2 linked regions of the Homo sapiens genome follow. The protein of the gene in region 1 interacts with the protein of each later gene in a biochemical or structural test. Each region holds a gene or a part of one and is shown on either strand. Other genes may lie near its edges.

Region 1 (3,703 bases):
TTATCCTGCCTCAGCCTCCCGAGCAGCTGGGTCTACAGGCGCATGCCACCATGCCCGGCTTTAGTAGACAGGGTTTCACCATGTTAGCCAGGATGGTCTTGATCTCCTGACATCATGTTCTGCCCGCCTTGGCCTCCCAAAGTACTGGGATTACAGGCATGAGCCACCACGCCCAGCCCAGCCAATTCTTTCAATATAAAAATACAATAGTCATGGCCAGGTGTGGTGGCTCATGCCTGTAATCCCAGCAGTTTGGGAGGGCCAAGGCAGGTGGATCACCTGAGGTCAGGTGTTCAAGACCAGCCTGGCCAACATGGTGAAACCCCACCTCTACTAAAAACACCAAAATTAGCCGGATGTGGTGGCTAATTTCCTACTGAGGCTGAGGCAGGAGAATCACTTGAACCTGGGAGGTGGAGGCTGCAGTGAGCCAAGATTGTGCCATCACACTCCAGCTTGGGGAACAGAGCCAAACATTGTCTCAAAAAAAAAAAAATTAGTCATGTTAGAAATTCCTTTATTCCTTATCAAAACAAACTAACAGTAAATGTATATTATATGCTTTAATTTTATACATATAAGTTATCTTGTTTGGATACATCTTTCATGAGGACTCTGCCACATCCATACTTTGTCCTTGTGGTGAGAGAGGATAAAATGTTATATAATTTGTTATTCAAAGAACATGGCAACCGTAACAGACAAAAGGAAGCATGGCATCTAGGGGAGGAGAGTGGAGAGTTTTCCATACACAAACACATTTAAACTTCCCTGTACAAAAATACCTGCTGTTGCTTTAGAAATCGTTTTCCGTTATGAATAGTCAGGTCTTGCAGTACAAATCCAGGTGCAGTGCCAGCAAGTATTTCAAATAAATTTCAACGACTTGATATTCAAGTCCAAACTAAATATTTAATGTTTTCTTTATTGCAAATATGATGTCTTTGACCTGAGGTATAGAGTTGTCCTCTAGAATCTTTGCATAAGGCATAGGGACATCAGCACCAGTGACACGAACAGCAGGAGCATCCAGGAAATTGAACGCAGGACCTAGGAGAAGGAAGGCTCAACTGAGAGAGTGCAAATGCCAGCTGGGCACTACCACCTTGGCACAGAGGTGTGGCTGACCAGGAAGAGAAAATGTAAGGAATGCTAATTATGGGGAACCGCTTTCTGGATTTGCTTTTAAAAATATCTGCCTGAAGAGAAATGCCAAACTTACAAGTTTAAAGTTGAAGTCGTTTGGCCACTCCTAGCTTTCAATCTCTTTATCCTGTACGTATTCAGGTACATGATGTTTACTATAGCTTGACTGTATTCTAGAACCAGTTTCTTTGAAATACCTTCCATGATCCTGGCACAGATTTCAGCTCCTACTCCAAACTGTGGCCAGCCTCCTTCCACAGTTACAAGATGATTTGTCTTCATGACACTGGCTTCTATGGTTTCCATGTCCATTGGTCTAATGGTACGCATATTTATCACCTAAACAGGTAATATAATCAAGTTTACAGAGCTATTGCAGCACAAATAGAGCCTTATCCCCATAATACCATTTCCTTTTTTGTTTCCTGTTAATCTTTGTATCTAGGAAAATCTAATCTGCCTATGAATACCTATTCATGAATGTACAAACTGTAAAAGGAAAAATTTTAATTAAAACAAAGATCTGTATGTCTACCACAAGCAGCTCTGTGCAGTTATAGGATTCATTTATCTTCCTTCACTTTTTTATTTCTTTTGGGATGGAGTTTTGCTCTTGTTGTCCAGGCTGGAGTGCAGTGGCGTGATCTCGGCTCACTGCCACCCCCGCCTTCCCAGTTCAAGCCATTTTCCTGCCTCAGCCTCTGGAGTAGCTGGGATTACAGGCATAGACCACCACGCCTAGCTAATTTTTGTATTTTTAGTAGAGATGGGGTTTCAACATGTTGGCCAGACTGGTCTTGAACTCCTGACCTCAGGTGATCCACCACGCCCAGCCAATCCTCCTTCACTTTAAATTCCCTCATCAAAATGAGTTAACAGTTAACAGCTGAGTGCCCATCATGTACCAAGCACTACACTAAGTGTAATTCTCACAACAGCCCTATGACGGGACAGTATTTATATTATCCCTGTTTTATAGCTGATGAAACAGATTTAGAGTATATAACTTGCCCAAGTATAACTAGCACATGGTGAGTTTCTAAAAGATCCAGAACCTCAGAAGGGTGAGGTGGGAGCATCACTTGGGCCCAGGAGTTCACGGTTACAGTGAGCCATGATCCAGCCACTGCACTTCAGCCTGGGCAACAGAACAAAAGCCTGTTTTTTTCTCTCTCGGGGGGTATCACTGAGAACCAGAAGAGGTTCAGAGAGCTCCCACTGTCTCTCAAAAAAAAAGATCCAGAACCTAAGTGACCTGAGTGGTAAAAAGCTAAGTATGTGAACTGCAGGCAGGTTCCCAGCTTTAAGCAGAGACAGAAATGAGTGACAAAGCAAGGTTTTACATCTAATTAACCTGTTACAGAACTCTTCTGGGTCTTAAATCTAAAAGGAGCCCTTCTAATTCTTTAAGAACAAGTAAATGTCCACTCACCTCACATTCAACTCCTTCTTTAGATAGCACTGCTGCAGCTTCTAAGCAGTGGCCCACAGGTCTTGAATGGGAAACCACAGTTATATGTGTTCCTGAAAACAGAGTGGTCACAGATCAGAGATCAGGTTGAAACTGAAGATGCTACACCACTGTGCCGCCAGCTGTGGCTCTTGTTCATTCATAAAGTCTTCAATTCAACTTCATTCCAGTGAGCTGAGGAATGTGGCAGCCTTCCTAGAAATGAAACACAAACCTACCAGACTGAGATCTAGAAAAGCACAACTGAATGAGAAATTGGGGCATCTTGAGCTCATCCTATAATTTTTCAGTCAAAGTAAATGACAGTAACTTCTAGATTAAATTTTACCAAAATTGAGGGGCTGGATTAAAAATACTGTTTATATATCTTAGTTTTCTTACCTTGCCTTTCTATTTTGGCTTTTCCAATAGGAATCAGAAAATCTTTTGACTGAGCTTCCGGAGGAAATTCAAAAGGAACCCCATACATCAATTCATTCTCTAGCACCACCACTGAAAAACATAAATATTTAAACAAAAGTAATTAATCACATCCAGAATGACTAAAACTGCATAGAAAGCAATATCATTCATCTTGTGAGAAGTTTCATTGTGCTGATTAGCCTTATCTCTACCATGACCAGCAGCCTTGAGAGCAGTTTAGGTACTTAAATTTGTAGTGGTCAATATAATTTTATCTATCAAACCAGTATTGTGGGTGTGCAGTAAATGTCCCCTTTACCTAGCTGGCCCCCTTATATTCGGAAATAGGAAAAGCAAGCACATTCTTTACTATCTTTACTATATAAAGTATTAACATTCTATACGATATATCTAAGCCTAACTAAAAGACTTTAATGGTTTCCTCTGTGCAAATATATCATTTTAGTTTTTCAATCTTCAAAAAAAACCAAAGGGTCCCTGTGCTGACCTGGATTGTTATCCCGAATGGCTGATTTAATAAGTCCTTTAGCATCCTCTGAATTCCAGGGACTGACCACCTTTAAGCCTGGGCAGTGCCCATACCAGGCAGCAAAGCACTGTGAGTGCTGGGCAGCTACACCTGCTGAGGCACCATTGGGCCCTCTGAAGACTATAGGCACAGGC
Region 2 (7,052 bases), on another chromosome or scaffold:
ATAAAAAAACTGTTGAAAGAGACTGAAGAACACCTAACTAATACAGGGGCATCTACATGTTCATGGATGAAAAGACTATATTCTTCGGATGGCAACACTTGCCAAACTGATCAGCAGATACATCCAATCAATCCTTATCAAAATGTCAACTGGCTTCAATGCAGAAATTTACAAGCTAATCCTAAAATTCACTTAGAATTGCAAGGGACTCAGACAAAACAATCTTGATTCTGGCTAACACGGTGAAACCCCGTCTCTACTAAAAATACAAAAAATTAGCCGGGCATGGTGGTGGGCGTCTGTAGTCCCAGCTACTTGGGAGGCTGAGGCAGGAGAATGGCATGAACCCGGGAGGCAGAGCTGGCAGTGAGCCAAGATCACGCCACTGCACTCTAGCCTGGGTGACAGAGCAAGACTCTGTCTTTAAAAAAAAAAAAAAAAAAAAAAAAAAATCTTGAGAAAAAAGAACAAAGATGACTCACGTTTCCTGATTTTACAACTTATTACAAAGCTAAAGTAATCAAGACTGTGGTACTGACATTAAGGGTATACAGAGATTAATGGAATGGAATTAAGAACCTGGAAATAGGCCAGGCATGGGGGCTCATGGCTGTAATTCCAGCACTTTGGGAGGCCAAGGTGGGTGGATCATTTGAGGTCAAGAGTTCGAGACCAGCCTGGCCAACATGGTGAAATCCTGTCCCTACTAAAAATACAAAAATTAGCCATGCCTGGTGGCTCATACCTGTAATCCCAGCTACTCGGGAGGCTGAGGGACGAGAATTGCTTGAACCTGGAAGGTGGAGGTTGCAGTAAGCCAAGATCACGCCACTGCACCCCAGTCTGGGCAACAGAGTGAGACTCAGTCTCAAAAATTGGCACATGACAAGGATGCTCTCTCTCACCACTCCTATTCAGCATAGTATTGGAAGTTCTGGCCAGGGCAATCAGGCAAGAGAAAGAAATAAAGAGTATTCAAATAGAAAAAGAGGAAGTCAAATTGTCTGTTTGTAGATGACATGATTGTATAGTTAGAAAACCCCATCATCTCAGTCCAAAATCTCCTTAAGCTGATAAGCAACTTCAGTGAAGTCTCAGGATACAAAATCAATGTGCAAAAATCACAAGCATTCCTACACGCCAATAACAGACAAACAGAGAGCCAAATTGTGAGTGAATTCCTATTCACAATTGCTATAAAAAGAATAGAATACCTAGGAATACAACTTACAAGGGATGTGAAGGACCTCTTCAAGGAGAACTACAAACCACTGCTCAAGGAAATAAGAGAGGACACAAAAACAAATGGAAAAGCATTCCATGCTCATGCATAGGAAGAATCAATATCGTGAAAATGGACATACTGCCCAAAGTAATTTATAAATTCAATGCTATCTTCATCAAGCAACCATTGACTTTCTTCACAGAATTAGAAAAAAACTACTTTAAATTTCATATGGAACCAAAAAAGGGCCCGTATAGCCAAGACAATCCTAAGCAAAAAGAACAAAGCTGGAGGCATCATGCTACCTGACTTCAAACTATACTATAAGGCTACAGTAACCAAAACAGCATGGTACTGGTACCAAAACAGATATATAGACCAATGGAACAGAACAGAAGCCTCAGACATAATGCCACACATTTACAACCATCTGATTTTTGACAAACCTGACAACAACAAGCAATGGGGAAAGGATTCCCTATTTAATCAATGATGTTGGGAAAACTGGCTAGCCATATGTAGAAAACTGAAACTGGACTCCTTCCTTACACCTTATACAAAAAATAACTGAAGATGGATTAAAGACTTAAACGTAAGACCTAAAACCATAAAAACCCTAGAAGAAAACCTAGGCAATACCATTCAGGACACAGGCATGGGCAAAGACTTCATGACTAAAACAACAAAAGCAATGGCAACAAAAGCCAAAATAGACAAATGGGGTCGAATTAAACTAAAGAGCTTCTGCACAGCAAAAGAAACTATCATCAGAGTGAACAGGCAACCTACAGAATGGGAGAAAATTTTTGAAATCTATCCATCTAACAAAGGGCTAATATCCAGAATCTATAAGGAACTTAAACAAATTTACAAGAAAAAAACAAATGACCCCATCAAAAAGTGGGCAAAGGATATGAACAGACACTTCTCAAAAGAAGACATTTATGTGGCCAACAAACATGAAAAAAAGCTCATCATCACTGGTCATTAAAGAAATGCAAATCAAAACCACAGTGAGTTACCATCTCACGCCAGTTACAATGGCGATCACTAAAAAGTCAGGAAACAACAGATGCTGGAATGTGGAGAAATAGGAACGCTTTTACACTGTTGGTAGGAGTGTAAATTAGTTCAACCCATTGTGGAAGACAGTGTGGCGGTTCCTCAAGGATCTAGAACCAGAAATACCATTTGACCCAGAAATCCCATTACTGGGTATAGACCCAAAGGATTATAAACCATTCTACTATAAAGACACATGCACACATATGTTTACTGCAGCACTGTTCCCAATAGCAAAGACTTGGAACCAAGCCAAATGCCCATCAATGATAGACTGGATAAAGAAAATGTGGCACATACACACCATGGAATACTATGCAGCCATAAAAAAAAGGATGAGTTTGTGTCCTTTGCAGGGACATGGATGAAGCTGGAAACCATCATTCTCAGCAAACTAACACAGGAACAGAAAACCAAACACCGCATGTTCTCACTTGTAAGTGGGAGTTGAACAATGAGAACACATGGACACAGGGAGGGAAACATCACACACCAGGACCTGTAGGGGGGTGGGGGGCTAAGGGGAGGGATAGCATTAGGAGAAATACCTAATGTAGATGATGGGTTGGTGGGTGCAGCAAACCACCATGGCACGTGTATACCTATGTAACAAACCTGCACGTTCTGCACATGTATCCCAGAACTTAAAGTATAATAAAACAAAACAAAACAAAAAATAACAAGATCTACAAAAAAAAAAAAATCTGGAAATAAAATTCTCACATATATGATTAATTTTGACAAGGATACCAAGACAATTCGATGGGGAAAGATGGTGCTGGGATGAAAGAATAAATGTCCACATGCAAAACAATGGTTGGATTCCTATCTCACACCACCTATAAAAAATTAACTCAAAATAGAGCAAAGACCTGAATATAAGAACTAAAAGTATAAAACTGTTACAAGGAAACAAAAGTATAAATCTTCATGACCTTAGACTAGGTAATAGTTTCTTAGATATAATACCAAAAGCACAGAAGAAAAAAATTGATAAAAGTGGACATAACCAATATTTAAAATCTTGTGCTTCAAAGGACAAGATCAAGAAAGTAACCACCAACTGATATATTGTAACAAAATATATGGACAAAAATATAAATGTTTGGTGGGGAAAGACAAAATTTTTATAACTTAGAAAGTTGGAATTTTCAGAACTTTTACCTTATTAAGTTCTTTCCGTACCAACAAAACTTCTCCCATATTTACATCGATAGAAAGGTAATAATGAGGTATGGTTTGCTTTGATTGCATTAATCGCTGTGCAATAACCTGAAACCAAAGAGATTTAAAAAATCAATTATCTTGAGTTAAGACCTTAACTAATTTAGGGCTCTGTTTGTCTCTTCACCTTACTCTCTGCTAATACTTACCTCAAGCATTATTATAATTGAAAGATGGAGGACTCCGCCATAATATAACACCTCCTAGATTTTTTTTTTTTTTTGAGATGGAGTCTCGCTATGTTGCCCAGGCTGGAGTGCGGTGGTGCGATCTCGGCTCACCACAACCTCCATTTCCCAAGTTCAAGCAATTCTCCTGCCTCAGCGTCCCGAGTACTTGGGACTACAGGCATGTGCCACCATGCCCGGCTAATTTTTGTATCTTTAGTAGAGACGGGGTGTTTCACTATGTTGGCCAGGCTGGTCTCGAAGTCTGGACCTTGTGATCTGCCCGCTTTGGCCTCCCAAAGTGCTGGGATTACAGGCATGAGCTACTGCGCCTGGCCCTTCTAATAGGAACAAAGTGATTCAAGTATTCAGTTGGCCAAAACTTCCCTTAAAGTAATCATCCAATATTCCCAACTTAAAAAGCCTCTGTTAATGTGTTAAAAACTATGGAAGCAACTAAACAACCTAAAGATGCCCCTAACAGCTGATTCCAGATGATGGTAATTCTCTTACCCGACGAATGTTGCTGATTGGGATATCTGTGAAGACACCTGTAGGAACTGGTGCCATTCCAGGACCTGTGGGAGGCACAACAGCTGCCGGAGCCTATGGGAGGAAAGAAAAAGCTCTTAGTAACTGTGATTCAATCTTAGCGTAAGTACCTGGGAAAGACTGCCAGTGACTATGCAGTTTTTTTTTTTTGTCTTTTGAGACAGAGTCTTGCTCTGTCACCCAGGCTAGAATGCAGTGGCTCAATCATGGTTCACTGCAGCCTCAACCTCCTGGGCTCAAGCAATCCTCCCATCTCAGCCCCTAGAGTAGCTGGGACTACAGGTGCACGCCAACATGCCCAGCTAATTTTTTTGGATTTCTAGTAGAGACGGAAATTAGCCACGTTGCCCTGGCTGGTCTCAAATGCCTGGGCTCAAGTGATCCACCCACCTTGGCTTCCCAAAGTGCTGGGGTTACAAGCATGAGCCACCATGTCCAGTCTAAAAACTAAGCTTTATAGAATACCTATTTCTGTCCCCAGTGAGCAAAAGAGACTTCTGCTTGTTTTAAGAGTTTTAATTTTTTTACTTAGAATTCTGAAGTCATGTTTTAAGTGTCATTTTTCTTTGTATCAGAGTATGTTCAATGACCAGTTTGTGTCAAAATAATTTTGTTTTTGCAAAATTATGTTCAAGAAAAGCAATGGAAGCATTCTTAAGTTGCAAGGAATAATAAATAAGTATAAACAAGCTAATCCATTATCCTAAACAATGTTAAGAAAAGGGGGTTGGGAGGCTCACTTGAGCCTCACAATGACTCACTTGAGGCCAGGAGTTCGTGACCAGGCTGGCCAACATGGCGAAACCCTGTCTCTACTAAACATACGAAAATTAGCCAGGTGTGATGGCATGCACCTGTAGTCCCAGCCACCTGGGAGGCTGGGGCATGAGAATCGCCTGAATCCAGGAGGCAGAGGTTGCAATGAGCCAAGATCGCGCCACTGCACTCCAGCCTGGGCGACAGAGTGAGACTGTCTCAAAAACAAACAAACAAAAAAAACCAAACACCAAAAACAACTCATTCAACTGTACTTTAAAATATTTTGAAAAAGAAAAAAAGAACAAATCTTTTATTTCAAAGCAAAAACCGATTAACTAGCTCAAAACATAATGTGGAATACATGTCAATGTAGTATATCATCTTTGATCTTGTATATAAATGATAGCACACAAATATCTAAATACACTTGGCCCTCCATATCCATAAGTTCTGCATCACTGGATTCAACCAAAGGCAAATCAAAAATATTCCAGAAAAAAACAGATGGTTGCATCTGAACTGCACAAGTACAGACTTTTTGTCCTTATTATTATTTCCTAAGCAATAAAATATAACAACTATTTACATAGTATTTACCTTGTATTTAATATTATAAGTAATCTAGAGATGATTTAAAGTATTTGAGAGGATGTGGGTAAGTTATATACAAATACTACACTATTTTATATAAGAGACTTAAGCATTTGCGAATTTTGGTATACAAGGGGGCTCCTGGAACCAACCTCTCATGGGTACCGAGGGATGACTGTATTATTAAACCACTGAAATTAGAAGAAAACAATCTTGGTTGAGCTATTTCGTTCATAAATAATGTATGAAATGGTCTAACAGGCTGTAGAGACAAACTGCAAAAAAAGTAAGAGCTACACATAACTCACAGGAGCAACTTTACTAGGCACAAAAGAGTCGATATCCTTCTTGGTGATTCTACCATCTGGTCCTGTCCCTGTAAGAGACATAAATATCACATACATGATGACATACCATTGGTTCCCCAAGGAGATCAACGCTGTGATCCTAAACTGCAAGCTCCTAAGGGTTTACTACCAAAAACATTCTGAAAGGTTCACAGCCTTAACCCTACCCCTTAAGGTGCTACCTACAAATACCAGCTTTTGTCAACTATTAATTTTAATCCACACAGAGTACCAGTGTGTGATCTGGAGTGGGTCTTTTCTTTTTAACTACTGCAAATATTCCTTTATGTATTTCTCTTTTAGAGTTTTATCCAAGTTGTACTTAATTTTTTTCATCTTCCTTACTTTTAAATTGGGAAATGTGGCATAAGGATAATGCCGAGCACAGTTTATATCTCCAAAAGGGAAACTAGCTGCCTCCTCCTGGTTAGCTCCAAAAAACCATTCCTAAGCCGTGAAATAGATTTCATTTGGGTTCTGGATTTATGTGACCATAAAGAATTCCTTTTATACAGAATTTACAGGTATAACAATAATTGTTTTGACAAATCAAGTCGATTTTTTCACCCCAAAATAGCACGAATAACTCTTTACTGCAATTATCTTATCTTTAGAATCATTCATTCCTTATGTGGTCTCTATGACTCATAGCTTTTTCACAGTAGCCAAGGCTCTAAACTGGCCCGTGTTAAAGGAAATGAAGGAAAAAGGTGCAATGTCACACATGAGGAAGGATCTTCAAAGTTCTCTCAGTAGGTTTAATTTTACTTATATTCAATTTCCTCCCTCCTCCCACCTACAGCCTCTTAGGTTTAATTTTGGACCCAAGTAGATAATCTTGACCTTTAATTCTACGGAGATTCAGAATTTAGTTATTATTATAGAATACCTTTTACACTGGCCCACTTCTAGGAAAAATTTGGTCAAACTGATTCATCTTCCCCCAAGGCAGACTTTAAAAAGGACTCTTGTTGTGTGTAGTTCTTCCCAATTCCTTTCCTTCATTACGAAAACTGAGTTGGCTAGGATTGTATTTATCCTCACTAGGAGCTCTAGAACAGAGGTGGTAGTACCCCTATTAGATTTCTCTCCTTTGTAAAAGACAGAAACCATAACCTCCCCTTA

What was found.
Region 2: the proteins of PDHB (region 1) and DLAT form a complex in vitro, tested with the Homo sapiens proteins (2 studies listed by BioGRID and IntAct, with this or other methods).

The regions. Positions count from the first base shown.
Region 1 is NC_000003.12:58,427,130-58,430,832, forward strand, and holds the end of PDHB (pyruvate dehydrogenase E1 component subunit beta, mitochondrial isoform 1 precursor), read right to left. Parts: coding exon 3,528-3,703; intron 3,110-3,527; coding exon 2,999-3,109; intron 2,671-2,998; coding exon 2,579-2,670; intron 1,486-2,578; coding exon 1,344-1,485; intron 1,051-1,343; coding exon 905-1,050; 3' UTR 501-904; downstream 1-500. UniProt on the Homo sapiens protein: The pyruvate dehydrogenase complex catalyzes the overall conversion of pyruvate to acetyl-CoA and CO(2), and thereby links the glycolytic pathway to the tricarboxylic cycle.
Region 2 is NC_000011.10:112,042,370-112,049,421, reverse strand, and holds part of DLAT (dihydrolipoyllysine-residue acetyltransferase component of pyruvate dehydrogenase complex, mitochondrial isoform 2 precursor), read right to left. Parts: intron 5,957-7,052; coding exon 5,889-5,956; intron 4,285-5,888; coding exon 4,192-4,284; intron 3,560-4,191; coding exon 3,452-3,559; intron 1-3,451.